4 linked regions of the Homo sapiens genome follow. The main gene of each other region encodes a partner of the protein of the gene in region 4 in a complex. Each region holds a gene or a part of one and is shown on either strand. Other genes may lie near its edges.

The links.
Region 1: the proteins of PABPC1 (region 4) and PAIP1 are in contact, whole or in part, in an NMR structure (PDB 1JH4), measured with the Homo sapiens proteins. Residues at the interface, in NP_001425211.1 of Homo sapiens: Pro555, Gln556, Gln558, Lys559, Gln560, Met561, Gly563, Glu564, Gly579, Lys580, Thr582, Gly583, Met584, Leu585, Leu586, Glu587, Asn590, Leu593, Ser605, Lys606, Glu609, Ala610, Ala612, Val613, Leu614, His617, Gln618; in NP_006442.2 of Homo sapiens: Ser126, Lys127, Leu128, Ser129, Val130, Asn131, Ala132, Pro133, Glu134, Phe135, Tyr136, Pro137, Ser138, Gly139, Tyr140, Ser141, Ser142, Tyr144.
Region 2: the proteins of PABPC1 (region 4) and LARP4 are in contact, whole or in part, in a crystal structure (PDB 3PKN), measured with the Homo sapiens proteins. Residues at the interface, in NP_001425211.1 of Homo sapiens: Gln560, Gly563, Glu564, Phe567, Pro568, Gly579, Lys580, Thr582, Gly583, Met584, Leu585, Leu586, Glu587, Lys606, Glu609, Ala610, Val613, Leu614, His617; in NP_443111.4 of Homo sapiens: Leu15, Asn16, Pro17, Asn18, Ala19, Lys20, Val21, Trp22, Glu24, Ile25.
Region 3: the proteins of PABPC1 (region 4) and CARM1 are in contact, whole or in part, in a crystal structure (PDB 5DX8), measured with the Homo sapiens proteins. Residues at the interface, in NP_001425211.1 of Homo sapiens: Gly452, Ala453, Ile454, Arg455, Pro456, Ala457, Ala458, Pro459; in NP_954592.1 of Homo sapiens: Gln148, Tyr149, Phe152, Tyr153, Asn161, Met162, Asp165, Glu257, Pro258, Met259, Gly260, Tyr261, Asn265, Glu266, Met268, Val340, Leu412, Thr413, His414, Trp415, Tyr416, Lys470, Pro472, Phe474, Tyr476.

What each region holds. Positions count from the first base shown.
Region 1 is NC_000005.10:43,533,078-43,540,096, reverse strand, and holds part of PAIP1 (polyadenylate-binding protein-interacting protein 1), read left to right. Parts: intron 1-1,061; coding exon 1,062-1,173; intron 1,174-3,152; coding exon 3,153-3,278; intron 3,279-4,456; coding exon 4,457-4,563; intron 4,564-5,126; coding exon 5,127-5,244; intron 5,245-6,304; coding exon 6,305-6,359; intron 6,360-7,019. UniProt on the Homo sapiens protein: Acts as a coactivator in the regulation of translation initiation of poly(A)-containing mRNAs. Its stimulatory activity on translation is mediated via its action on PABPC1. Competes with PAIP2 for binding to PABPC1.
Region 2 is NC_000012.12:50,396,121-50,403,895, forward strand, and holds the start of LARP4 (la-related protein 4), read left to right. Parts: upstream 1-4,764; 5' UTR 4,765-4,890; coding exon 4,891-4,908; intron 4,909-5,028; exon of another isoform or gene 5,029-5,161; intron 5,162-5,286; exon of another isoform or gene 5,287-5,359; intron 5,360-6,554; exon of another isoform or gene 6,555-6,651; coding exon of another isoform or gene 6,652-6,693; intron 6,694-7,775. Other genes in the region: protein FAM186A, read right to left, coding at 173-364. UniProt on the Homo sapiens protein: RNA binding protein that binds to the poly-A tract of mRNA molecules. Associates with the 40S ribosomal subunit and with polysomes. Plays a role in the regulation of mRNA translation.
Region 3 is NC_000019.10:10,867,357-10,874,552, forward strand, and holds the start of CARM1 (histone-arginine methyltransferase CARM1), read left to right. Parts: upstream 1-4,196; 5' UTR 4,197-4,346; coding exon 4,347-4,566; intron 4,567-5,072; exon of another isoform or gene 5,073-5,121; coding exon of another isoform or gene 5,122-5,236; intron 5,237-7,196. Other genes in the region: C19orf38 (protein HIDE1 precursor), read left to right, coding at 1,862-2,011. UniProt on the Homo sapiens protein: Methylates (mono- and asymmetric dimethylation) the guanidino nitrogens of arginyl residues in several proteins involved in DNA packaging, transcription regulation, pre-mRNA splicing, and mRNA stability.
Region 4 is NC_000008.11:100,719,072-100,726,316, reverse strand, and holds the start of PABPC1 (polyadenylate-binding protein 1), read left to right. Parts: upstream 1-4,228; 5' UTR 4,229-4,733; coding exon 4,734-4,926; intron 4,927-7,245. UniProt on the Homo sapiens protein: Binds the poly(A) tail of mRNA, including that of its own transcript, and regulates processes of mRNA metabolism such as pre-mRNA splicing and mRNA stability.

The sequences.
Region 1 (7,019 bases), on a different chromosome or scaffold from region 4:
TGACCCAGAGTCAATTACTGAACAAGAGGTAATTTATTTTTTCTTTGTTAAAAATTGTTTACAAAGTCAACCTAAACTGGCTGCGTGGAAACCATTCAGTACCCATAGCTTTTCCCTTTGTCTTGAAAAGGAAAACTGTCAAAACCAGTTTTGTGAAGCAAGTTACTTTCCCAGAGTTTTCTCACCTTATCAATAAAGATTACAAATACTTAATAACAAAATGATAAACTTTTACAGTCCATTTAAAAAATCTATGTTAGTAACAATATCTGACACTGTAGTTCACTTATGAAGGCAGTGACAGGATTATTGTGCCTAGTTTAGTTACCTTGTAGGAACTATGACTGACAATAAGCTCCAAGAAGAGGATTTCTTCTTTTTCTCCTCTGTGTGAAGCAAATGGGTCAAGTCAGGGGCAAAGAGAGCAAGGAAAAATCAGTTATTTGAAGCTGTCAGTCTCATTGGAAATAGAAAACAAGTCCGGTGCTTTCTATATTGTGGTTTTAATGGGGGAATTTTTTCCTCACATTAGTACTTCTCTGATACGTATAATGGAAATTACAAGAATAATGGACTTAAAAACAATTCATTTTATTTTCAGTTGGAGGTTGTGTGTGTGTGTGTGTGTGTGTGTGTGTGTGTGTATTTAAAGATCCTTTTCAAAGTTGTAGTATTAAAAAAAAAATTACAGAGACAATTTGGGTAAAATCAGTGCTTTCTTAGTAAAAAACCTATAAGACAAGGTGAGGCTCTCTCTCCCCTCTTTGGGCTGCCAGTATGCTGTGAATCAGATTACACCTATGTTGCTTAAACATATTAAATTTGATAAAAATCGTTGAAAATAAAACTATCAGTTTTTTCAAACTGGGAGACTTAGTATGAAAAGATGGTGTATATTCTAGCCTCTTCAATAGTCAGGAACAGTTTCTTTATTGTAGAAAGAGCATTGGGACATTGTCCTTGCCTCTTGCTGTGGACAACCAAACTGACAAATGGTTATTTTGTTTGACTATTTAAAAAGCAAAGCAATGTGAGATTATAAAAGATATGTCTTTAATTAGATGTCGGACTGAATATGAAGTTAAAGATCAAGCTGCAAAAGGGGATGAAGTTACTCGAAAACGATTTCATGCATTTGTACTCTTTCTGGGAGAACTTTATCTTAACCTGGAGGTGAGAAGTTTTTCTTTTGTTAAGTACTAACAAGGCCTGAGAACATAAGTTGATCTCAATGAGGAATTTGTGTTCACATTGTACTTTTACAACATTAAGAGTGAAATGAAAGAGAGAGGAAAGAAAACATGTTTCGGCACCTGCTAGTGTCTGTGGTTTACTGGACCGTCTGTCCATAACATTTACTCATGGACAGAATGTTAGGAAATAATTACTGAGGTAAAAATCTGCGTACTTTTAGGAAGCTGTGGTTTACATGCAAATTTAAGTTCTTGAGATATCAACAGTGATACCTTTTTGAGTTCTTACATCTTATATATTAATACATTTAGTATGTTGACTTTCAGATGGTGGCTCAAAGCAGTTTACTCTGCAGAACTCTGAGTGAAAAGAGAGACTAGAGTCTCTCTAGGCTTTTCACTCTAATTCACCCAAATAGTTTTTTAAAAATATTTTTTTAATTGACAAAAATTATATCTTTATGGTACACAACACTTTGATATATGCATACATCGTAGAATGGCTAAATCAAGCTATTTAACATATGCATTACTTGACATACTTTTTTGTGTTAAGAACACTTAAAATTTTTAGCAGTTTTCATGTATACAATATATTGTTAACTATAGTCATCATGGTGTACAAGAGATCTCTTGAACTTATTCCCCCTAAATGAAATTCTGTGTCCTTTGACCAACATCTCCCCAATACCCCAACCCCTAAGAATAGTTCTTTTTTGTCCTATTTTATATATTAATCTTCCACATAAAAATGCATTTGTACAAAGTCTACAGCTAAACGTATTTATAAATTTGGGTGGTATACTTAAGTATATGCTTGTTAGTAGGCAATAGAAGTGCTGGATTCAGCACGGCATTATTACTGTGTAATAGATTTGCTTGATTTTTTTTTTTTTTTTTTTTTTTTGGGTGGGGACAGTCTCGCTCTGTCACCCAGGCTGGAGTGCAGTGACGTGATCTCGGCTCACTACAACCTCCGCCTCCCGGGTTCAAGCGATTCTCCTGCTTCAGCCTTCTGAGCAGCTGGGATTACAGGCACGTACCACTATGCCTGGCTAATGTTTATATTTTTAGCAGAGATGGGGTTTCACCATGTTGGCCACGCTGGTCTCAAACTCCTGACCTCAGGTGCTACCCGCCTCAGCCTCCCAGAGTGCTGGGATTACAGGCATGAGCCACCATGCCCAGCCTCTGCTTGATTTTTTAAATTAGTGAATATCAGATATAAGCTTATACCTTCTTACACCCTGATTTGAGAACTTAAGATCGTAAACGCCATAATATCAGAAACATCATAAGACAATGTGAATCTATCAAATGTGCATCTCAGTCATTGTATCTAAAAGGTCTATGTCCAGTCCAGAGCCTAACTTACTATGCCTTTTTACCACAGGTAGACTTAGTTTTTTGAAAAATCTTATGCCATGTTCTTTTTCAGTCTAATTTTTGTTTAAGCCAAAATATGGACAGCAATCTAAAATAAATACTGTTGAGCATTTTCTATATGGAGATAATGATGCTAGGTCAATGGGGGATGTAAAGATAAGGCTTAGTTCCTGCACCTAAAATTCTTCTACACAGTGATATAAGATACATATACCACTCTGATGCAAAATACCATATTTTAAAATATTTTAAAAGCAGAATAAAATGCTGTGTGTTCAAAAAAAAGTGGTAGTTGAACAAACTAAAGAAAGCTTTATGAAGTAGTAACATCAAAGTGGGCTTAAATTATGCTGACTCTGGTATTAAATTTTACCCATAGCTTACCAGTTTTATTAGAGGTCTTAGTTACATATAAAGTAATTCTAACAAATTCTGTGAAGATATCAGAGTGTGTTCCTGTGACTTTTGTGATTTAGCTAAAATGCTTATTTTGCCAACACCTTGTTAGTTCATTTATGTATCTGTATTATATTTTGGCATCATTCCTTTTGTTCTTTTTTTTGGTCCCGAAAGATCAAGGGAACAAATGGACAGGTTACAAGAGCAGATATTCTTCAGGTTGGTCTTCGAGAATTGCTGAATGCCCTGTTTTCTAATCCTATGGATGACAATTTAATTTGTGCAGTAAAATTGTTAAAGGTAGGTTTTTTTTTTTAATTTAACTAATTTACGTATTTACTTATGATTTAGAGGAAGGTTAGTCTATATAGTATACAGATGAATTCAAGATTTATCACTTTAAGGTAAATATTGACATTTTACTTTTTTCTCGAATATTTTGGAAAAGCGAGATATACTTATTGTTTAATATATGAAGCAAGTTCAGAAGTGAAAAATGGAAGTCCTTTACGCCATTTCCATTTGCAAATTCTGTCTTCTTCCCTTCTTATCTCTGTATATGTGCTCTTATTAAATAAGATCTTACTCTGTTCTGGCTTTTTGTTTTTGTTTTTGCCACCTAATGAAACATCTTAGATTTTTCCATGGCACAGAGATTTACCTCTTTTATTGAATAACTTCCTAGTATTCTGTCATATGCATATGCATTGTTTATCCATTCCGTAACATCTATCAATGTTTACTAATGAATATTTGGATTATCTTCAGTTTAGCCATGGCAGCATTGCTTGTAATCTTTCCTCTTGTCATATATATGTGCAGATACTTTTGTAGGTTAAATTCTTAAACACGGATTTGGTGGGTGGACGAGCATATGTATTTTACGACAAGTAATGGCTAATTTGCCTTCCAAATGCTGAACCAGAGTATAGCCCCATCAGCAGAATGAGTACATCTCTTCCTACATCCTTATAGTGATGGATATAATCAATCTTGGTTTTTGTTTTGTCAGATGATTTTAAGCATTTCTTCATGTTTATTAGCCATTTGTTTATTATTTCCTATAAATTACCTGTTTAAATCCTTAACTGATTTATTTCCTGATGAAATGCATGTTTGTGTTTTTTTTTTTTATTCAAAGCTTCTATACTTGTTGCTTGCTGTATATTTCAAAAAAAGTGACATGTTCATTAAAATCTAATAGCCTATCTTAGTCATACAGGGAATATAACAGTCGTTGACATAAAACCCATGATTAAAGTTCTGCTATTGTTTTTTTTGTTTTAGTTTCTCTCAGTCAAGAGAAATATAGAGGGCGTAGAGATCACTGAATATTAGATGGTAGACAGAATAATTAGGAATATTAAACTTGCTAAATTCATCTTGTTTAGAGAATGCTTGAACTGTTACTGGTATCTTTTTAGAATTTCTATAATACACTATTGAATTTCTTATTTTACTGACACCTGCTTTTTTAGTTGACAGGATCAGTTTTGGAAGATGCTTGGAAGGAAAAAGGAAAGATGGATATGGAAGAAATTATTCAGAGAATTGAAAACGTTGTCCTAGATGCAAACTGCAGTAGGTAGGAAAAGAAGTAATGTAAATAGCCAGTGCATCTCAATTTCTTGCTTTTTCTTTGGAGATTGTTTTTTAATTTGCTATACTTCAGCAGGGTAAGTTGATGGCTAACGGATATACAAAAATGCTTTTCTTTAAAGGAATAATATTTTACCTATAGTTTCTGCTCACTAGACATTTTTGTGATAGACGTGTCAGATATTTTTGCTCAATTACATTTAGAAATTGAAAAAGCTAATTTTCTTAAGATATGAATTAAATGAAAAACAAAATCCAAATATTAACTGTCCAACAAATAAAAGTACTACTGTAAGTATAGTAGGACACATAAAAATGTTTGAAGGATAGCCACTGCCTTTAAGGTCCATATAGTCATAGTTACGTGGAACATAATTCAAGGCTATTTTTTTTTTAAATGAATTTATGTCATATAGGAAACGTCTAGAAAGTCAAGGCATCAGATGTACCTGTTAAATTAAGGAAATAAAGTTTTGGGAATCTGAGATATTTTAGGGTCTGACAGCCCTTATGGTGGATACACTAACTCATTTTCAACTTTGTCTACAGAGATGTAAAACAGATGCTCTTGAAGCTTGTAGAACTCCGGTCAAGTAACTGGGGCAGAGTCCATGCAACTTCAACATATAGAGAAGCAACACCAGAAAATGATCCTAACTACTTTATGGTATGCCAGTGTTTATATTTTAAGTTTTACTTATTGCTTGAATTCCGTTTTGGAAATTAGAAGAGCTACATAAAGCTGTTCTCAGAATTCAGTGCCTAATAACTGTCTTCACTGGCTTTGAGTGACATGGCAGCCATCAGACTGGGTAAAAAAGAAAAGAGACCTGGAATTCTCCAGTGAAAGGGTGGACTAGAGAAAGATATATCCAATGGCAAGAGAGATTGACAAGGCTTGGACTTAAGTGAGCACAGGGATGCCAGGAAGCAGCTTTTCCAGAGAATTTATAACCAAGGACCTGCATCTCAGACTTTTACTTTGCATGTTGTAGTAACGAAAAATAAAATAAAATTGGTTGGCTGGGCGTAGTGGCTCACACCTGTAATCCCAGCGCTTTGGGAGGCCAAGGTGGGCAGATCACCTGAGGTCAGGAGTTCAAGACCAGCCTGACCAACGTGGAGAAACCCCGTCTCTACTAAAACTACAAAGTCAGCTGGGCGTGGCAGTACTTGCCTGTAATCCCAGCTACTCGGGAGGCTGAGGCAGGAGAATTGCTTGAAGCCTGGAGGCAGAGGTTGTGGTGAGCTGAAATCACGCCATTGCACTCCAGCCCAGGCAACAAGAGCACAACTCTGTCTCAGGGAAAAAAAAAAAATGGCTACTAGGCCAGTGATGCCCTGAAGCTCCTGACATGAACAAACATAAAGCAGCTGTGGAGAAATGTTCCTCCAGCCCTGGTCCTGGAAATTCTTAAAAGAAATGGTGGGGTTGGAAACCACAGCTAAAAATGCACTGACACTAAATGACAATGCACAACAGAACAGTTCACTGAAAGACAATAGACAGCACCGTTAGAACCACAAGAACTTGAGATAATGGCATGGAAATCTGAAAACCATAGACTTTCTCAGTGAAGTGAAAATGGCTACCAGGAAGTTAGGTTCCTTTGCTTGTTCTTGCATTATTAGGTGCAGACGGGTGACATCAGCCATGCTTCATTATTGTACTTACAAAAATCAATTCTGAAATGATTACATATTTTTATCACTTTGATTCATCCTAGAATGAACCAACATTTTATACATCTGATGGTGTTCCTTTCACTGCAGCTGATCCAGGTATGTTGTCTCACAGTCATTCCCTCCTCCCAGTTGTTTGGTAAAGTAGTAAATTTACAGAAAACCACATCCTCACCAGCACAAGATTGTAACTTTTTGATGTCTTCACATCATTCTAAAATACCAGTGTAATGGTTTGTCTAATATAGAATGCTCTTCATAGTGACCACTTGAAACATTTCAAATGAAAGTATGATTCCACATATAATGTCTTGTCACTTAACAACAGAGGATGGGAAGAATTCTCAATTAAATGCAACTATTTTAATTTTATATTTCCTCTAACTTTTTTATAATCTTAAATTTTCAGGTGATTAGAATGGAGGGGAAAGACGATTCTAGTTCACTGCATAGTCAGCAACATATATTAATATGGGTTAATACTTTACACGAAGAATTACACATTTCATTCATACTTGGTGTGTGACAGTTAATTAAAATCCAAATCTCTGCACATTTCCTCTTCCAGAAGAGGACCATTTATAGAAAGATTGCCTTAATTGTATTAGATGGAACTGTAGAGTGAGGAAGAGAAATTTTTCCCTTTGGTACAAACTGCAACCAGCTTATGGTTGGAATTTTTCCATTTGTTTCCTCTGGATTCCAAGCATTGACTGTCCTGTGTCTCTAGCACAGAGAAGTTTTTTTAGGGCAAGGAAG
Region 2 (7,775 bases), on a different chromosome or scaffold from region 4:
GAGCTTGTTATATCCACAGTCGGTGTCAGGTGAAATTGTCATTTGAAGTCAAAGCTACCCTAAATACAGTCAAATATCATGAAAGTGATTTCTAAAATAAACAAAAATGTACTTGGTCACAGAAAGTTTAAAAAGAAAATTGCAGTCTGTAAACTTCAGATTCACTACCTACCTCTCTGGCTCGATGGAGCTGTGCGCGCTCAATCCTAGAGATGATATCCTTTACTGAGAATGGGATCTCAAGGTTAGGGAGCATCAAAGGACTAAGGATATTTTGGGGCTCTCTTCTCATGATGGTGGAATCCTTGATGCATTTTTCTGATTCAGGGTCATTGTCTATCTCATTTTTCATTTTGAAGAACATTTTGAAAATGTGGGTGATTTCGTTTTATTTCTTCTTTTTCACAGAATCTACAAAAATGCTAATAAAGATATCCAGTAGGAAGCTAGGAGAGGTCTTTCCTGATCCTAGAAGTTGTGGCATACTCTGCTACTAATTGGTGGCTCCCATGATATTCCCGTCCTGTTGATGTCACAATAGACCCATTGTGACATTATCATTGATCAAACATGTAAAGAATGCTTACTATGTGCAGAGAACTGGTCATTCTATATGCTGCCATGGTAGAAGGGTGAGGGGGGAAGGAGGGTAGGAAATAATAGACAACAGGAATGCTAAAATAAACAGAAGATATAGCCCTGCTTAAATAAGCTTAAAATCTAGATGTGTTGGCCGGGTGCAGTGGCTCATGCCTGTAATCCCAGCACTTTGGGAGGCCGAGGCAGGTGGATCACCAGAGGTCGGAGTTCGAGACCAGCCTGACCAACATGGAGAAACCCCGTCTCTACTAAAAAAAAAAAAATACAAAATTAGCCATGTGAGGTGGCACATGCGTGTAGTCCCAGCTACTTGGGAGGCTGAGGCAGGAGAATCACTTGAACCCGGGAGGCGGAGGTTGTGGTGAGCCGAGATCACGTCATTGCACTCCAGCCTGGGCAACAAGAGTGAAACTGTCTCAAAAAAAAAAAAAAAAAAATCTAGGTGTGTCAAATATAACTCCTGGTTCTTCTCTCTTCCTGGGGTTTTGCTTAAGTATTTTTAAGCCTGTAATGGAATAAAGGTTACAACTACTTCCTCAGCTGCCCCTTAACTTTTCCTAGACATGTAGTAACTTGGATGATATCATTTGGATGAAGTAACTTGGATGATATCATTTGGATGAGGATCACACTCTTTGCACTGCTTACTCTTTTTTCTTTTCTTTTCTTTTCTTTCCCTTTTTTTTGGAGACAGAGTCTCACTTTGTTACCCAGGCTGGAGTGCAGTGGTGTGATCTTGGTTCATGGCAACCTCTGCCTCCCAGGTTCAAGAGATTCTTGTGCCTCAGCCTCCCTGAGTAGCTGGAATTACAGGTGCGCGCCACCACGCCTGGCTAATTTTTGTTTAATATTTGCTTCCAATTTTTTTAATAATAAAAAAGCATTACAGAAGGTTGAAGTCCTCTTTGATGTCCCCCACCCCTGGTTCCTTCCTTCCCCACTGTCCCATTCCAGAGGAAATGACAATCATGAATTTTACATATTTGTGTTATCTATTTTTACATAGTTTTACTACAGGTGTATGTATTGTTTTTTCTTTCTTTCTTTCTTTCTCCTTCCTTCCTTCCTTCCTTCCTTCCTTCCTTCCTTCCTTCCTTCCTTCCTTTCTTTCTTTCTTTTTTTTTTTTTGAGGCAGAGTCTCACTCTGTTGTCCAGGCTGGAGTGTAGTAGTGCCATCTCAGCAGACTGTAACCTCTGCCTCCCAGGTTCAAACGATTCTTCTACCTCAGCCTCCCGAGTAGCTGGGATTACAGGCATGCGCCACCACACCTGGCTAATTTTTTTTTTTTTTTTTTTTGAGACGGAATCTCGCCTGTGGCCCAGGCTGGAGTGCAGTGGCATGATCTCGGCTCACTGCAAGCTCCGCCTCCCAGGTTTGCTCCATTCTCCTGCCTCAGCCTCCCGAGTAGCTGGGACTACAGGCGCCCGCCACCACACCCGGCTAGTTTTTTGTATTTTTTAGTAGAGACGGGGTTTCACCATGTTAGCCAGGATGGTCTCGATCTCCTGACCTCGTGATCTGCATGCCTTGGCCTCCCAAAGTGCTGAGATTACAGGTGTGAGCCACTGCACTCGGCCTACACCTGGCTAATTTTTTATATTTTTGGTAGATATAGGGTTTCACTGTGTTGGCCAGGCTGGTCTCAAACTCCTCAAGTGATTCACTCACCTCGGCCTCCCAAAGTTTAGTTGTCAACTAAACTAAATTTGCATTATTCTTTCTCTCTCACTTGCATCTTTTATGCAGCATGGAATTCATCAATCAGCAACTAGACATGAAGGCTTTTCTTTGAGACAAAATCTCACTCTGTCACCCAGGCTGGAGTGCAGAGGCACGATCTAGGCTCACTGCAAGCTCCGCCTCCCAGGTTCACGCCATTCTCCTGCCTCAGCCTCCCAAGTAGCTGGGACTACAGGCGCCCACCACCACGCCCGGCTAATTTTTTGTATTTTTAGTAGAGAAAGAGTTTCACCGTGTTTGCCAGGACAGTCTCGATCTCCTGACCTCGTGGCCTCCCAAAGTGCTGGGATTACAGCCATGAGCCACCACGCCTGGCCATGAAGGCTTCTTAAAGTCAATTTTTAAATCCTGCTTCCCTTTCAATTCGACAAGCATTTGTTGAAACACTATGCAGCTTACATTATCCTAAACTGAAGAATATATGATAGGGTTCCTGTGAAGAAACTAAAACAAAAAAGAAAAGATTTAAGATAGAATATAATAATCAAGTGCTAATAAGGGACACGAAGAAGAGATCTGTAGAAGCAGAATCTTTGAGAAAACCTTATGGAGAGAGAAGGTTGATTGACAAATGGAGGCAATCCAGGTAGGGGCAACACCTTGAGCCATGGCTTTGGCGGTGAGTGCTAATGAGTTTGCATCTTAGGGGGAAAGTAAGGAGATTGGTTTAATCACTGAGATGACTTCACGGGAATTTACTGAGGACCACATTAGGGTGGGCCTGAGATAACAGATATCAGCAATTTGGTGGTGGAATTAATTTGGTATCTGAGGAGATTCCATTTGCGGCAAAGCAAGGAGGATTTCATGAGATCAGAATGGCAAAGTCTTGAAATCAAGTAACAGTGGTTTGGTGAAAATGAAACCTTCACTTTGGGAAGATTTTTTAAATAATAGAATGGAAAAATCCATTGGAAAAGATCAAGACATGATTATTTCATTTTTATTTATTATTATTATTTTTTAGAGACAGAGTCACACTCTGTCACCCAGGCTTGAGTGCAGTGGCGTGATCTTGGCTCACTGCAACCTCTGCCTCCCAGGTTCTAGCAATTCTCCTGCCTCAGCCTCCCACGTAGCTGGGACTACAGGCACACACTGCCATGCCTGGCTAATTTTTTGTATTTTACTAGAGATGGCATTTCACCATGTTGCCCAGGCTGGTCTTGAACTCCTGAGCTAAGGCAATCCACCCGCCTCGGCCTCCCAAAGTGCTAGAATTACAGGCGTGAGCCACGGTGTCCGGCCAATTTTTATTCGTTACTATTATTATTACTATATTTGAGACAGAGTCTCACTCTGTCACCCAGGCTGGAGTGCAGTGGCGCGATGTTGGCTCACTATTAACTCCACCTCCTGGGTTTAAGCGATTCGCCTGCCTCAGCCTCCCGAGTAGCTGGGATTACAGGTGTGCACCACCACACTTGGCTAATTTTTGTATTTTTAGTAGAGATGGGGTTTTACCATGTTGGCCAGGCTGGTCTTGAACTCCCGACCGCAAGTGATCCGCCCGCCTCAGCTTTCCAAATTGCTGGGATTATAGGCGTGAGCCACCCTTCCCAGCCAAGACATGATTATTTCAAAAGATGAGTGTTTGAACTAGGACATACAAGTGGGAGCGATCTATCCTACTACATATTGCTAAAGACAATAAGGAATTTGGACCATCTAACAAAAATTATAGATAATTTTAAAAATTTTGTTTTTATTGTATTTCGTTTGAATTAATGACAGAACGTCAAAGAAGACACTGTCCAGATTAAGTGTTATTACTGGTATATTAAGCGGTGACATGGGTAATTAATTCAAATGAGCCTGGGGCAAAGTTCTTTAAAGGGAAACCCGACCTCCTAGAGGGCTTCTTCAACTGTAAAATGGGGATGATAATAATAGTGTTTATTGCATAGAATTGTTTTAAGATCAATTAACATAAAATGCTTAGTATAGTGCCAAACACAATGTAAGCATTTAATATACATTAGCTGCTATTAACATATTTGCTAGTATCATAGTTTTTTGTTTTTTTTTTCTTGTCTACTTTTCTTCTGTGAGCCACCACTTTTCGGCAGGGTTGGTTTGTTCAGTACACTTCGCCAAGGTCGGCTTTAAAAATCAAATCTAGATTGTGAACTATGAAAACTGCGGAATTATCAGTGCTGTGTAGCTATCTGACAAGTGATAAAATGTGTCATTACGATTTTTACACATCCCCGTGCCACAGAATGGCGTCTCCTTCTAATCGTTCCCCCCGACAGATGATAGTACATCCCACACTGCTGCTGGAAAAGATAGTGCAAAAGTTGAGCGCGCCGAGGGCTCTCTTTTCTCCCGGAAACAATTTTTCCCTAGACCCGGAAGCAGTTGTTGTTTCAAGGGAGGTGGGACTGGGCGGGTCAGGCCGCAGCGGCTGACGGCAGGGGAGGAGCCGGGTCCACTGCCGGGTGGAGGGGCAAGGCGAGTGTGTGTCCTTATCCTAGCAATTGGGGCGCGGGCCTGTGAGCCAGTTGGAGTTGCGGCGGCGGGAACGATTGGGCTGAGCAGAGGACGACATGTTGCTTTTCGTGGAGGTGAGTGCATTATGCTAGTCTCGTCCTGCTCTTAGGAGAGCAGGAGTGTAGAGGCGCCGGCCGGTCCCACCGCCATGTGACTTTCCGGGCCGTACACGCCGCGGAACCGGCAGATAGGCTGACACAGCACCTGGGCCGAGCAGGCCTGCAGCTTCCCTCTGCGCGCTCACAACACTCTAGGAAGCTATGGGAGGTGAGGCCCGTAGTGGAGAAGAATTGAAGGAGAAAAACGGAGGGCTGTTCTGGTGTGGCGGTGAGGTTCAGAGGAAGGGGAAAGTGTCCCATATGGACCTCCTAAAGGAGGCAGCATTGGGGGGTTGGGGGGCGGAGTCTGAGGGAGGAGAGGGTAATCAGGTGGGCGCGTTCCGGGGGCCGAGCGCGGCCTCGCGGGGCCCCTCTGGGAGGGAGGCGAGCAACATGTGGGGCCACGGATGGAGAAAGGTGAAATGCGGTAAGTATTTTGAAAAGAAAATTGAAAAGTTCTTTTGAGCAACTTCCACCAAATTCTGCCCGGGCCCCGTCCCTAGGTCTCTGGAACGTTCTGTGGGTGAAAGCGAGTTACTTTGAATCGAGGAGAAGCCAGTAGGGTTTGGAAGCCTTGAAAGGCACCGCTTTGACCTTTTGTAAAAGTTACTCAAGCAGCAGCTGCGTGATGAAGGGTTGGTTCTATGAACCGATTAAAAGCCCTTTACAAGGAAAATTCCAAGAATGAGGGAAACTTATTCCGGGAAAAGCCGTTTTTTGTAATGTTATTTGAACAATGAGACACTTTTATTACTTAAACTAGAACGTCTGCTGTTGGCCTATTTTAGTTTTCAAGATAGAGTTGGATACCTGCCTTACAGAAATACGAAATTTAATTTCCCTTAATTCTGTCCTCTTGTGTGCAGTGAGCGTCAGCTGACTGCCTGGCTAATGCTTTGAGTAGATTCCAGATCATATTGTTCTTACATTGTGAAAACGTCAAACCAGCAAAGCTGCAACTTCGCAACTTGGCATTTGTTAACTATGCCCATAAGAAGAATCTTTTCAATGAGGGAAGGAATTTACGGGTTGTATAATGAATCTAGGAGCCGGGGCCAGCCTATGGCAGATTTTTTTTTCCGGGTTGTGGGAAAATCTTACTCCGTAATATTCCAGCATAAAGTAAATAAATGATTTTACGGTTTTTTTTTCTCTTTAAACTAACTGATATTGTGTCGCCGATAAGCTTGATATCTTTAAATTAGTTTTTTAAAAGACTGCTACATTAGAGTGTATCTAACATTCATAATAAACATTCATTGGAACATTCCGGGGAAATCATGAAAAGACTTAAAATTACTGAACTCATTCTGTTTACTGTTTTCTGTCCTCATTGTTGTTTTCCTTAGGCAGAATAAGAAATCAGATAAGATTTTAAGCCAGTGCCAGCCAGTTTTTTTAAGGAATGTTATGCTATGTAAATACCACAGGTTTTAAGTGTGTGTTTTGCTGGGCAGAAGAAAGATTGTGAAGTTTATATTGACAGGAACTCCACAATATACTTTTGACTTCCAAATTGATTCCTTTGGCTTTATTAAAATGTAAGTTTTAATAACAGCTCCATTTATTGTTTAAACTAGGTCTTCTCCTGTCTCTAAAGCGATACTTAATATGTTTTACAGATGACAAAACCGAGCCCCAGAGGTTAAAGTAACTTTACTTAGTAAAAGTAAAGTAGTTTAACTGGGATTTAGATCCAGGTCATGCTGATGTCAAATCATGGACGGGATGTTAGCAATTCAGGCCTGTCCGACTCCCCAGGTTAGACAAATTCTATCGTATCTCTCGCCAAACTAGTGTTTAAAAGTTGTATCTCCATTAATCATTTTCTTTGTGAGTCACTATGTCATTCTTCATTTTCTCATATGAGTTTTATTGAAAATTAACTGTCTTTAAATATTTGGGGCTGAATATGTGGTATTAAAATCAGTGAAAAACAACATGTTGGTCGTTTGGCGTTTTGTTAACTAATATTTGATCCCTGTAACCTCATGATAGAGGAATTATTCTCAGTGAGAGAACCAAAGCTCAGAAGTTAGATGTCTAAGGTCATTCAAGTGTAAATAATGTGGGGGCTAAAGTCTGAAGTCTGACTTCTAGAACATAAATTTCTGGCTTCAAAATTATTTTTGTACTTTCCCATAAGTCAAAGGTTCTTAATCTAGGTTTTTGGATAGAATTGAGGAAGTAAGTACCTAAGCTTGGTTGAGGAAAAAAATTTGCGTGTTTATTTTCTCTAGCTTCTAACTGAAATCTAAATGGAAAAGAAGTGAAAATTCTTTAAATGTTAATGGCAGCAACAGTGTATGTGACCTTGTCACCAAGACAAATCACTTTTTTACATGTATTACAGCTTTTGCAGTTATCTTGAAATATTTATGCTCATTACTTGCTATATGTCAAAAATATTGTTAACGTATTGCTATATTAGACATTTTAAAATATTTTGATAACTGCGTTTCAATATAATTGGTTTACTTTGTGATCCTATATATTTTAGAAATGTAAAAAAACGGAGAAGAGATCCATAGATTAATTGGACTACTAAAGAGGTCTGTGTCACAGAAGAGGTTAAGAACTGCTTTACTAAACCAACTTGCTTGTGGATCATCTTTGGCAGGGTTAATCTGGGATCCCTGGGTCCTCTGCAGTTGTGTTCAATACCTTTTACTTATGTGTATTTTTCTGGAGAGATTCCAGCTTAACTATCCCACTAGAATCAGTAGGATAGATAATAGCAATATAACAATAACAACAGTAGTAGTATATACTTGTATCGTGCTTTGTGTCAGGAACGTTTGATGTTTTTGCATATATAGATATCTGTACATCTTAAGTCTCAA
Region 3 (7,196 bases), on a different chromosome or scaffold from region 4:
CACTTTGGGAGGCCAAGGCGGGCAGATCACCTGAGGTTGGGAATTCGAGACTAGCCTGACCAACACGGAGAAACCCCATCTCTACTAAAACTACAAAAAAAAAAAAAAAAAATTAGCCGGGCATGGTGGCACATGCCTGTAATACCAGCTACTCGGGAGGCTTAGGCAGGAGAATCACTTGAACCCAGGAGGCGGAGTTGCTGTGAGCTGAGATCACGCCATTGCATTCCAGCCTGGGCAACAAGAGCGAAACTCCATCTCAGAAAAAAAAAAGGAAGAACATTCTTTTTTTTTTTTTTTTTTTTTTTTTTTTTGAGACAGTGTCTCACTCTGTCGCCCAGACTGCAGTGCAGTGGTGTGATCTCGGCTCACTGCCACCTCTGCCTCCCAGCCTCCAGCGATTCTCCTGCCTCAGCTTCCCAAGTAGCTGGGATTACAGGCGCCTGCCACCATGCCCGGCTAATTTTTGTAGTTTTAGTAGAGATGGGGTTTCACCATGTTGGCCAGGCTGGTCTTGAACTCCTGACCTCAGGTGATCCGCCCGCCTCGACCTCCCAAAGTGCTGGGATTACAGGTGTGAGCCACCGTGCCCAGCCTGTTCTTCCTTTTTAAGGCTGAATCATATTGTGTTGTATGGATACACCAAGTTTTGTTGATCCATTCAATTGTTGATGGACACTTGGGTTGTTTCCACCTTTTGGCTGTTGTGCAGAACCGTGCCATGACCATGGGTATGCAAATTTCTTTTGGAGTCTCTGCTTTCACTTCTAGTTTCCTTTTGAAGCCTTATACTGCTTTGTCGTTGGCTGAAATGGTAAGGCAGCAGCTGACCTGTCTCTAGCTTTCCCCATTACCTTGCTGAGTGTCTGATATGCAACTTTGTAACACCCTTTCAGGTGGGATCGATTATTTTCTTTTTACGAACAAGGACACTGAGGCTGATAATGGGCCTAGGGTCACCCAGCTTGGGAGGGACAGGACTGTGGGTGGAACCCCCAGCCTGCTGTCAACTGAGTGGCTTTAGTTCTAGCAAATTCATCTCTCTTTAACTAGGATCAGGGTCAGGAGCCTCCAAGGCAGAGGAGGAGGTAGACTTTTGAGGAATGTTTTGCCCATGGGCAAATGGGAGGGGAGGAGGAGATAATACTATTTATTTTTTATTTATTTATTTTTTTGAGACCAAGTCTCACTTTGTTCCCCAGGCTGGAGAGGAGTGGCAGGATCTCAGCTCACTGCAACCTTCACCTCCTGGGTTCAGGTGATTCTCCTGCCTCAGCCTCCCGAGTAGCTGGGATTACAGGCGTGCACCACCACACCTAATTTTTGTATTTTTCTGAGAGGGTTTCACCATGTTGGCCAGGCTGGTCTCGAACTCCTGACCTGAGGTGATCCACCCACCTCGGTCTCCCAAAGTGCTGGGATTACAGGCGTGAGCCACTGGGCCCAACAGAGGAGATAATATGAATGGTTGTGTTCACTTAGCAAAGAAGAGCTTACGATGTGCCATTTGCTTTATCAGTTTTACTCTTTTAAGCCTCATAGCAGCCCTAGGAAGTGGTGGGTACTAGCATTCTGCCCGTTTTGCAGAAGGGGAAACTGAGGTATAGAGGGGTGAAGCCACACAACTGAGGTTACACTGCTATAAAGTGAAGGAACTGGTGTTTGAATCCATGCTCTCTGGTCCCCAGTTTAGCAGAGAGGAAGGCAGGAGAAGGGAAGACCAGGACAGGTGGGTGTGGGTGGGGGCGGGATGAGAGGAGACCTGCTGGGCTGGCAGAGTCTCAGGCTCAGAACATGGAGAAACCCTAGATCCTGAAACCCCAAATCACCCACTTCTGTGTTTCTTCTTACATGGACAAAGAAAACGATGCCAGAAGAAGACCCGGCCACCTTGGATGATCACTCAGGCACCACTGCCACCCCCAGCAACTCCAGGACCCGGAAGAGGCCCACTTCCACGTCCTCCTCGCCTGAGACCCCCGAATTCAGCACTTTCCGGGCCTGCCAGTGAGGCTGAGGACTGGGGGACCCCTCTGTCTCCAGGCATTCGGGGGCCTGAGGTCCCTCCAGCTACTTCTGGGGGGGCTCTGTCAGCCACTTTCTCAGGGAATTGGACAGAGGAAAGGAAGGGGAACCCTGGCCTTGGGATTTTCATCACAGAGGAGTGGGAGAGGGGACACAGGCATGGGCCTGGCACTATACAGACAACAGGAAGTTCCCCTCTCGACCTTCGGCTCCTCAGGACCACCAGAGAAGGAGATGTCAGGACCCCTTCTTGTCCCCCAGCTGGGCCATAAGACGTCCCAGGTCTCTGCACACCCGTGGAATTCCTCCCTTCCCCAGTGGGTTTTTGAGCATAGGGTGCCCTTGGGTGTGTTGTGTGTCTGCCTGCTGGCTTGCTTAAGTTATTAATTATAACACGGGTCAAGGTGTTCCCAGGCCTCTATGGAGTGGAATCCTTCAAGCTGGGGACCTCTGGATCCCATGGTTGGATGGCTGGGGGGTGGAGCGTGTCTGAATTCACCAAATTTGAAGCATCTCTCAAGGGCAGTCAGGGTGGTGTATGCGGAGCCTCCTGGGGGTGTGGGGAGTGCAGCAGTGCCATGCCAGGGTCTCTGCAACGGTACTTGCATTAGAGGGTTTAGGAGGTGGAATGACAGGGGCTACGGGTGAGGGACATGAAGGAGAATGAGGGCCCCTCGCAGTGGCTCACACCTATAATCCCAGCACTTTGGGAGGCCGAGGCAGGGGGTTGCTTGAGCCCAGGAGGTTGAGGCTGCAGTAAGCTATGATGGCACCACTGCACTCTAGCCTGGGCAACACAGTGAGACCCTGTCTCAAAAAACAAAAGGGGCCGGGCGCGGTGGCTCATGCCTGTAGGCCCAGCACTTTGGGATGCCGAGGCGGGCGGATCACCTGAAGTCAGGAGTTCAAGACCAGCCTGACCAACATGGTGAAACCTCGTCTCTACTAAAAATAAAAAATTAGCTGGGCGTGGTAGAGCATGCCTGTAGTCCCAGCTACTCGGGAGGCTGAGGCAGGAGAATCACTTGAACCCGGGAGGCGGAGGTTGCGGTGAGCTGAGATCGAGCCATTGCACTCCAGCCTGGGAGACAGAGCGAGACTCCGTCTCAAAGAAAAAAAAAAAAAAAAAAAAGGAATGAGGCGTAAATGAGGTCTAGGGAAGAGTTAAAGCTGGAGTGCTAGGAAGTGGCCCAAGCTCACTGGGTCGCCCAAAAGAGATGGGGCCACCCAAAATGAAGGGGGATGCAGAGAGAAGACGGGTTTGTGTGGCGGGAGAGGGGCCCTGCGCCGGGCCAGGCTGGACTCAGCATCGTTGGAGGAGGGGCTGAGAGAGGAGGGGGTCAAAGGATATCTTGTGCGAAAGGAGACAGTCAAACATTAAGGATTAAGAAGGCAATGTGGGCAGAGATGATGGGGAAGGGAGGAGGAGCGGTCGAATGTCGGGGAGGGGTCCTTTCAACCGGGCTCAGGTTGCTCCTGGAGGCCAGGGCTCATCGGAAATCGTCGGTGCGGGGGCGGTGGGGGGAAGGGTTGGGGGCGAGGCCCGGGCGCTGGCCACGCCCTTTCCCCCGCCCATTCCCCAGAGCGGGGCGGCTGACAAAGCGAGTCCGGGTGGGAGGGCGCGGGCAGGCACGGGGGCGGGGCCTCGTCGCGGCTGGGCCACGCCTCCCTGAGGGCTGCCTCACAAAGCCGGGCGGGCCCGGGGGGGTGGGGCCCAGTCTCAGGGGCGTGTCCAGGTCGGGGCAGGGAAGCCGCATCACGACGCGCGGCTGCTTGTGTGGGGCGGGGTACAGGGCGTGTCCACGCGGCCGAGCACCGCCCCCGCCGTCCCCGCACCGCCTCACTCGAAAGCAGCCGTTAATGAGGCGCCGGCCTGGGGGCGGGGCCCAGGCCTCCGAGGGGCGTGCCCGCGCGCCCGAGCACCGCCCCCGACGTACCCTCCCGCCCCGCAGTTCCCGGGCGGTGGAGCCACCTCACAAAGCGGCGACCGTTCTCGCGGGGCGGGGCGTAGCCGGTCCCGCCCCACGGGGTGCCCTCTCGTTCGCTCGCTAGCTCCCCGCGCCCAGGACGGCCGGCAGAGGGCGCTGCGCCACGGGGCCGGGCCGCGGCGACGGTGGCGGCGGCGGCGGCGAGGCGGCGCGTGGCCGGCAGGCGGCGCTGCCCGGCTCGGCCTCGGCCTGCACGGCGGCTGCGGCGGCGGTAGCGGCAGCGGCGGCGGCGGCGGCGGCGGCGGCGGCGGCGGCGGCGGCGGCGGCGGCAGCGGCGGCGGCCTGGGCCCGGGCGCAGCGGCGGCGGCGGCGGGGCCTGGAGCCGGATCTAAGATGGCAGCGGCGGCGGCGGCGGTGGGGCCGGGCGCGGGCGGCGCGGGGTCGGCGGTCCCGGGCGGCGCGGGGCCCTGCGCTACCGTGTCGGTGTTCCCCGGCGCCCGCCTCCTCACCATCGGCGACGCGAACGGCGAGATCCAGCGGCACGCGGAGCAGCAGGCGCTGCGCCTCGAGGTGCGCGCCGGCCCGGACTCGGCGGGCATCGCCCTCTACAGCCGTGAGTACGGGGCCCCGGGGCAGGCGCAGGGCCGGGGCTGCTCACGAGGCCGGCCCGGGGCGGGGGCCGGCGGGGAGGGGCCCTGAGCGCGGGGGCCTGGCGTGGGGTCCCCGGGACTGAGCCGGTGGCCTGCAGGGAGCGACCGTGGAGGGCCGGTGCCAGGGGACAGACAGAGAAAAGAGGGCGTGCGTGGTGGCCGGAGGGGCAAGGTGCCCAGAGTGAGCAAGGGAGCGCGAAATGGGGAGTGAAGGGCCTGAGATTTGGGAGGGGTGGGTGAGCAGGAAGTGGGGGGCTCTGAGTGGAAGGGGAATTTGGAGGACGCCAGGCGTGGTGGGCTTAAGCGTGGGGGAGGGAGGTCCGGGGTGCGGGAGAGGTGGGCGTCTCGGGGGCGGGCGTGGCCGCCTCTGCAGGGAGGAGGGTGGGGCGTGGGCGGCCCGGGATCCCTCTGGGGACCCCCTGGATAGCTCAGGACGGTTGGAAAGTGTTTGCTGGTCTGGGGCGCCCGCGAGTACCGAGTTCCACCGCTGTGCGAGGTGTGGCGTTCAGGACCCCCGAATGGGAAACTTCAGGATCTGGGGAGAGGGCCCATGCGGGGACGGTGGGAGCCGCAGGGTGAGCTCCTCGTGGAAACGTGGACGGGACGGGCCCCTTCCTGATGCCGGGCTTCGAAGTAAGAGCTAACAGCCTCCTCCCATCTTCTTTTGGGGGATGTGAGAAGCTGGTTACATTTTCCGAAGCTGCTTTCAAAACTGACATTTCACTGGGGGGAAAAGAAAATCACAAATGCGTTTGCCAGCACCCCCCACCCCCGCTCCCAGTCTTTGTAGTTCATTCTTCTTCTTGTTACTCCTTCTTATCTCTTCTCTTTGATTCCTTGTTCACATTTTGCTACTCTGTGTCATTTGGCTTTGTCTTTCAGGGCTTCTTGCACTGATGCCCTGGGGAACCCCTCAGGAGGCCTCTAGCTAGCTTGGGTCCTGTGTGAATTTTTTGCCACTTTGGAAACGGCCCGATTAAAGGAAAGCCCGAGGAGCAGTCCGTTCACACTGGGTTTTCCCTGCACCTCGACTTTGAAAACGTGGACTAAAGGAGTTGTGTCTGCTGTCCGAGGGTGCCGTCTCTTTTTGCTGGTGCAGAGCCTGGGTCTTCTTGGACCAGATGAGAGGGGAAGGAGGGTATTTCAGCGGGGGTTTCAGAGTTCAAGGCAGACACTCAGCTCAACAGAACCCCAGATCATAAGCAAAACCTATTCACTGGGCAAGCATTGGTAGCCAACTTTGTCCTGAACAGAACAAAGCGGGGCAGCGTTTCCAAAACTAGGGTCCCAGGGCTTATCCTCAAAGGAGTTCCAGGAGAGTTGGCTATCATTTTTAAGTAAACCTTTAAAAAATTTTTTTAGGACCAGGCGGGGTAGCTCAGCACTTTGGGAGGCTAAGCACTTTGGGAGGATCACTTGAGGTCAGGAGTTCGAGACCAGCCTGGCCAACATGGTGAAACCCCGTCTCTACTAAAAATACAAAACAGCGGGGTGTGGTGACATGTGCCTGTCCCAGCTACTCGGGAGGCAGAGGCAGGAGAATCACTTGAACCTGGGAGGCAGAGGTTGCAATGAGCTGAGATCGTGCCATTGCACTCCAGCCGGGGAGACAGAGTGAGACTCCATCTCAAAAAAAAAATTTTTTTTAGAACAATTTTAGTTTAGTTTTTTTTTTTTTTTTTTTTTTTTTTTTTTTTTGAGACAGAGTCTTGCTCGGTCCCCCAGGCTGAAGTGCAGTGGCTCAATCTCGGCTCACTGCAAGCTCTGCCACCTGGGTTCACGCCATTCTCCTGCCTCAGCCTCCCGAGTAGCTGGGACTACAGGCGCCTGCCGCCATGCCCGGCTAATTTTTTGTGTTTTTAGTAGAGACGGGGTTTCACCATGTTAGCCAGGATGGTCTTGATCTCCTGACCTCGTGATCCACCCGCCTTGGCCTCCCAAAGTGCTGGGATTACAGGCATGAGCCACCCCGCCCGGCCAGAACAATTTTAGTCTTATAGATGTATTGGCAACATAGTGAGATGTTCCTACCATCTTATTCCTGGAGTAACATTTTGTGTTTGTATTTGTGTTTTTGTTTTTGTTTTGTTGATACTCTTGAAAGTATTACTTGTTATTAAGACAGCACTTCTCTTTGAGAGGTAATTGGTAACTGAAACATTTTTTATTATTAGAGACAAGGTTTCACTATGTCACTGTGTTGCCCAGGCTGGTCTCCAACTTCTGAGCTCAAGTGATCTTCCTGCCTCCCAGAATGCTGGGATTACAGGTGTGAGCCACCCCACCTGACCGGAAACATTCATAAAAAGGAGAAAGTCCACATTCCTCAGAGAGCCTCAGTCCCAGATTCCCAGATGATATATCCTTAGGGTTCTGAAATAATTTTTTTTTACACTTTTTTGTTTTTTTTCTTTCTTTTTTATTTTTTTTATTTTTATTTTTTATTTTTTCAGACAGGGCCTCACTCTGTTGCTCAGACTGGAGTGCAGTGGTACAGTCTCAGTCTCAGCTCACTGCAGCCTTCCATGGCTAAAGTGATCCTCATACCTCAGCCTCCCTAGTAGCTGGGACCACAGGCATGTGCCACACCCAG
Region 4 (7,245 bases):
TCTGATTGCTCGCCATTTTCTCAGAACTAATGTCAGCTTACAACATCTGACACACAATCTAGAAACAGGACCCCATTTCAAACTCATATAAATTCCTTTCTTCATTCTTGGTTGGTATGAGAAAAATATGCAATGCGTATGGAAGAAAACATAAACTCTAAGTGAGTCTCATTATAGGAATTCCTCTGATCATGGGCATGACAATTTGCAAATCTGAGTAGGTGTTATGTTCCTCACCAACCTGGCAAACCAATTAAGTGGGAAGCTCATCTTCTGAAACATTGCATAGTTTTGATTTTATCACAGACATCATATAATATTTTTTCTATTTCAAGGATCTACAGAAAGTATACCCCTTCAATTGAGAGGGATCTGTTCTCAACGAATACACTTATTATCCATTTCAAATAAATCTCTCTATATTACCTAAAGATCTTAAAAGGCCAGGTTATCTTACATACATTACACAAGATACTATAAATTATCCTGGATATATTCTGAATGTATCCTGGATATAACCTGAAAATTACTTATAAATTGCTAGTGAAGTTCAAGTGAATAAGCTCTCTGGAGAACTTTACAGTTTACTCATTAAATAAAAACAGGTTAATTGAATGACTTTAATGTCATTAGATATTCTTAGGCACCCACAGTGAGATGCTGCACATATAAAGACATTATTCTGTCCCACAGCTTGCAATCTAAAATTAGATAAACACAGGCAAGCCAGATAAACATAGACAGCACATTTTTTAAGACAAAAAAAAATGATAGGAGAGAAAAATGAGAGTAGTGAATCAAAAAGGCAAAAGGAATCAACAAATATTTCATCTTCTGCCTTTTATTCGTAGCCTTAATTACCTCTATCACAAGCAATCAGACTGCTAACATCAAAAAGGGGTCTCAGAACATTAGTGGGATTACCACCATACAGCGTCCTCAGCTTTGGAGGTCCAGAAACTCCTGTTGTCCAGGAGTCCTTGCTTGTCCCTGCTTGCCTGATTTGGGGTACTAAAAGTCCACTACTTCCAGCACTAGAAATGAGAGCCCAACCAGCATGTCAGGAAGCGCTCCCCGAAACAGCTTGTGGAGCTGAGAGGTAACATGCTGCAGCAGGCCAAGCAGTCTGGAGGTGAACACGGCCCTAGGTGCCCATGTGACCATCAGGTTGAGACCTCCCAACTAACCCTCATCCTATATGGTCAGTCTACAAGGCCTAGCTGGCCCTCTCCCTGAAGTTAGGTTTAAAAAGAAAAAATACACCCTCAGTGTGCCAGGCTTCACGGTAGATGGTTGGGATGCAGATAAACATGACATAAGCCTTCTTTTGGCGCTTACAACTTATTTTGGGAGATCGCTCATAAACACACTATTTTGATATAACGTAGTAAATGTAGTGGCAGGGTTGGCGGGGGGCAGGGGAAAAACCAAAGGAAGGGTGCCCAATCCTACCTGGTGGTCAGGGAATGGTAAGTTACTGGCGGAGAGGAGGAAGAATCTGAGAGGCAGAACCAGGAAAGTGTAGCCCAGACGCCAAGAGAGTGTGTGACAAAAGAGAGGGAGGAAAACAGTGTCAAACTCTGCAGATGTCCAGTAAAATGGACCTGAAGAAAGTCCATTGGATTTGTCAAATAGAACAGGGATCATTGGCAACTGTTGATGGGGCAATTTGAGTGCAGCTGGAAGTCATACGGTAGTGTTGAGGAACTAAGGAGAGAGAAAGCAGAAATGAAAAGCTTGGCTATGAAAAAAAAGTGAATGAGAGAGGAATATGTCATTAAGAGAAGATTGGTTTGTTTTCTTTTTGATCTGAATTGACCAGTTTCTGATCTGAGCGAAAGCAGCTGGCTGGAAATAAAAAGAGGTGATTGATGGATCAAGGGAACAGGTTCTTGGTTTCAGTTCCAGATCCCACTCCTGTTTCCTCCTGGGCTCTGACTCTCTCTCCTATTCTATTAAATAGCAGCTCCTTGTCCTCAGGTATGGACTTTGCTTCTACTTTCCCTTGCACATACTCAACTGTACCTCCATAAAATATGACAATGACATCTACTAAGTGCAAGAGCCACAGCTGCATAGACGTCCTGATGACTGGCTCCCTTCCCAAACTATGTATTCACCTACAAAGCACTAATATACTTTTCTAGTGATGAGAATGCTTCCATTTACCATCCAGGGCATCACTGCCTGTCAAGCTGCCCTGGAAGCCTAACAACTGTTTATTTTTTATTTATTTGAGTCTCGTTCTGTCACCAGGCTGGAGTGCAGTGACGCAATCCTGGCTCACTGCAACCTCCGCCTCCCGGGTTCAAGCGATTCTCCTGCCTCAGGCTCCCGAGTAGCTGGGACTATAGGCGCGCGCCACCACGCCCAGCTAATTTTTGTATTTTTAGTAGAGACGGGGTTTCACCATGTTGGCCAGGATGGTCTCGATCTCTTGACCTCGTGATCTGCCCCCCTTGGCTTCTCAAAGTGCTGGGATTACAGGCGTGAGCCACCGCGCCTGGCTACTTTTTGTATTTTTAGTAGAGACGGGGTTTCACCATGTTGGCCAGGCTGGTCTCGAACTCCTGACCTCAAGTGATCAGCGTGCGTCAGCCTCCCAAAGTGCTGGAATTACAGGAGTGAGCCACCGCGCCCGGTCACATTTTATCCTCTTTTTAATAGGAGCAAAATAGTATTTATGTGGGATTCCACTGGTTTAAATTCTAATTAAATGAGACAAGATATAAAGTACTTAATTCCACACCTAGCAATACAGTTGACATCCATTAAAGTTTATTGAATTAAGGAATAAATTGGGCAATCATTTAACTTCTTTGAGACTGTTCCTGTAACAGTAAAGTAAAATTATTACTACTTGCTCCACCTCCCACACCAGATTGCTCTCAGGAACAAATGATAGTATGTTTACGCGAGTGCTTTAAAAACTGTAAAAGCACTTTACTACTTTCGAGTGGAATTTGTATGTTGATTTAATGTCATTCCTAGAGCCGGTTTTTATTACTATCAATTCGTTAAATTTAGCATTCCTATTAAAACCCACTACTAATGTGCAGAATTGTTTTAGTTATTTATAAGGACGTTGTTTTAGACTATTCCTAATTTTGTCTGGTTGCAGGGCTGTGGTGCCATATAGTAGTGATTGTGACAAACCCGTACTTTCAGGAAAAACATTCACTTTTCTCCACTCCTGGTTTCTATCGCCAAGAAATGTCTGGCAGAAGCAGCACAAATCAATGATTCCAGCCTAGCACCTTAAGGTAAGAAGTGACCAAAGACCCCCAACACAGCTATCCCAAATTAAAGCCACTTTGACCAACGACAACGTCCAGTGAAGACACGGAGGAGGGTCGGGCTGGAAAAGAAGAGGACGAGGAACCCGAGGGGCCCTCCCCTCTCTCTCCCTGCCCCCCAACCCCGCGCCGGGAGCTCCAGCGGTGCCGGGGTCCAGCGCGCAGGACGGTTGGGGGGTCCCGGAGCGGGCGGCCAGGACCCGCGCAGCCAGTTGGTGTCAGCGAGCGCCGCGGCCGTTGGGGACTCCAGCTCCCAGCAGGCACCGCTTCTGCGGCCGACGCGCGTGGCGGCGGTGCCGGCTGGGACTCGTAGTGCGGTCCGGGTAGGAGAGAGCAGGGGGCCACGCTGGCTCCATCTACGCACGTTTCGGAAACCGGGCCCGGAGGGGACCACGCCCGCTCACCCGTGCCCGGCGTCCCCCGGAGCTGGGGCTAGAGGAGCCGGGCCGGCCGCAGCGGGAAGAGGCCACAGGCGGCCGCGCACGTGGGGGGTGGTTAGCGCGGAGGAACCCGGAAGCCCTTTGCACCGCCCACCGCCGCGGTGACGGGTTAACGCTCCTCCTGGTGGAGGCAGGGGCGGGCGGGGCGGAAGGCGGGGACGCCTCAGCCAACACCCCCGAGGACCGCCCGCGAGCCGTCCTCCCCACCCCCACGGACGCGACGCAGCGCGGGCTCCGCTTCCCCGGCCGCGGCGCCTGCGCAAAAGCCCCGCCCCTTCGCCCGAGCCCCACCCCCACACCGCAGCCTCCACCGCCGCCACCTCTCCCTTCCTCTCTGCTCTTTCCTCCTGTTTTCTCTTCCCTCCTCCCCCTGGCCTCCGCGTCTCCTCCTACTCCGGCGCTGACGCTCGCGTAGGGGCCCTGGCGTCAGACGCGCGGGGGCGGGGCGAGTGCGGCGCGGGGTATAAGTAGAGGGTGCAGGAGGCGGTGCTTCCCCTTCTCCCCGGCGGTTAGTGCTGAGAGTGCGGAGTGTGTGCTCCGGGCTCGGAACACACATTTATTATTAAAAAATCCAAAAAAAATCTAAAAAAATCTTTTAAAAAACCCCAAAAAAATTTACAAAAAATCCGCGTCTCCCCCGCCGGAGACTTTTATTTTTTTTCTTCCTCTTTTATAAAATAACCCGGTGAAGCAGCCGAGACCGACCCGCCCGCCCGCGGCCCCGCAGCAGCTCCAAGAAGGAACCAAGAGACCGAGGCCTTCCCGCTGCCCGGACCCGACACCGCCACCCTCGCTCCCCGCCGGCAGCCGGCAGCCAGCGGCAGTGGATCGACCCCGTTCTGCGGCCGTTGAGTAGTTTTCAATTCCGGTTGATTTTTGTCCCTCTGCGCTTGCTCCCCGCTCCCCTCCCCCCGGCTCCGGCCCCCAGCCCCGGCACTCGCTCTCCTCCTCTCACGGAAAGGTCGCGGCCTGTGGCCCTGCGGGCAGCCGTGCCGAGATGAACCCCAGTGCCCCCAGCTACCCCATGGCCTCGCTCTACGTGGGGGACCTCCACCCCGACGTGACCGAGGCGATGCTCTACGAGAAGTTCAGCCCGGCCGGGCCCATCCTCTCCATCCGGGTCTGCAGGGACATGATCACCCGCCGCTCCTTGGGCTACGCGTATGTGAACTTCCAGCAGCCGGCGGACGGTGAGCGCCGGGCTCCGCGGTCGGCCGGGCGGGCGGGCGGCCATGAGGCTCGGGCGGCGGCGGCGGGCGGGGTAGGCCGGCGGGCCCGGGGAGGGGGGCGGGAGGGCATGTCACCCCGCGACGGCCGGCGGGAAGGCGCCGGGGTCCCTGGAGCCGCGTTTCCCGAGCCGGCGGGGACCCGCGCTGCCGGCAGCCACACGCCCGGCTACTTCCTCCTTTGCGACCATTTTCTCGGCCTCAGACGCTCTCAAACTTTAGGGTGATGACGCGCCGGGAGGGTGGGTGAGATTCGGTTCCTCCGCGGCGCTCCCGCCAGTGGCCCCGGGATTCTGGGGCGTTGAACGCTGAGCTCCTTCCGTGGGTAAGAGGTGGAGGCGCTCCCACCACCCGGAGCTCCTGCCGGCGCCCCAGCCTGGGGAGGAAGTGCAGTTCTGTGCTCGAAAAATACCACGTGTTGAACCCTGTAACCTCGCAGGCCCGAGGCCTGCTTCTGCTCCTGCTCCTGGCCCAGTCGCCTGGGGGAGCCACCAGGCCTTAGGATAAAGTTCCTGTGGCGATGTGTGGTGTGGTGGTGGTCCTCAGGCTTGTGAGTCCACTTCCCAGAACTCATCAGTGACTGATGGATCTAGGAATGGAATTTACCGGAGACATGCATTTGGGGTTTCCCCTAGATCAAGCATTTCTCTAACATTAAAAGGGCAGAGTGGGAGGAGGGGATGTGGCAGCCGACCACTTTGAAGGCCAGTTTTCTCAGGCAACTTAGACCATTTTTAGTCAAATTTTATCTTAGATTCACAGTACTGGTGGTTTTCGAGTATATTATGTTACCTTCTGAAATAGTTCCTGTCGTTTTGAGGGGCTTTTCTTTATAAAATAGTCAACTTTGGCTATAAAATGTTACTTTAGTGTAATTCCAACTGGACCAGTCTTATCTGTAGCATGCAAGAAGTTCAAGTTTCTCTTTTATTTTTAAAAGTGGCCCATGATACCTGTAAATCTTGGGAAATGACTGAGTACAAAATAACGGAGATTAAATTGAGCTTGAAATTTATGGGGGAAATGCAGCTAACTTTGTGCTTTTATTTTGAAGCTAAACAGTTAACAGAAACACAATTTTGTAAACAGATAATATCTGTGGTCTGTTGAGTTGCTAGGATTTGTCTTTAGATCAATTGGCTTTGAGAAGTCAGCTTAATTCCATTTTACGGCCCAATTTTGCCTTTTTCCCCCCCTACAGGCTGGCCACTTGAATACATGTCAAATAATCGAAATATGAAGAATTCATTTTTATTAGAAAAGGCCTTAAGGGTGGAATTTAAGCTCCTATTAACATTCATTCAGTAGAACTTAGGTTACTGATCAGCTCTTCACTGTGTAAAGTTGATACTGATTTTGGAAGCAGAATATTGAGTGACACAGAGCCAGAAGTTGTAAAACTGCACTGCAGGTTTCCTGCCCTTTTGCTCTGTAAGCAGTAACTCCAAATGTCACTTCATAACAGTTCTTGTCAACCTTAGGCAGGATGTATCAATGCATGTCAGATGGGGGTAGATAACTTTGGGGCAGGTTATCACAACCTAAGAGTTGGTGGAGAAAACATGGGAATGAATTCTAGAGACCACAAAATGAAAACTTGAAAGTGTTACTCTTTCTCAGCTTAACGTTTTTAAATCCAAAAAACAATTTTTACATTTCTTGGGATTCGAAGAGTTGAACTTCAGGTTGCCGTGGTTACAGTGTACAGTATATATTATCAGTCTGTACCAGTAGACCAGTACCCTAACTACTGAAAAGAATATGGCAGTTTTCCATTTGTCTAGTTTCTGTATGTACAATTTACTATCCAATTAATTACTTAAGTGGATTTCTTGTTCTTTTTTAAAAACTTATTGCTACATTGATAGGCAGAATAGCTTCTGAAAGTGACCAGTTTTCAATTTCATAGGAAGAGGTGACTCATTGAAAAATAGCTCAAGCAAAGTCAGCTAAAAAAAAAAAAAAACTAGGGAAGCTGAGTAGGTGTGGTCAATTGATAATGAGCTAACAGCTGATTATCACTATATTCTAGAAACTGGAACTTTCATTTATAAAAAAAGAGGTGGCCGGAAAATTCATCCTGTCAATAACTTTTAAATTTACATTGGCATGGAATTTGTAGGAATTGTTTCAGGGCTTAAAAGGGACCGTTTTCCCTCTCTTCGGGGACTAGTCTTTTTATTTAAGGATGTGTTATTTCATTTAGAGCCTTTAATGGTACAGGTATACATAATTCAATCCTTTATAGATCCTGAAATTAATTGTAGATTTTGAAATTTTCTA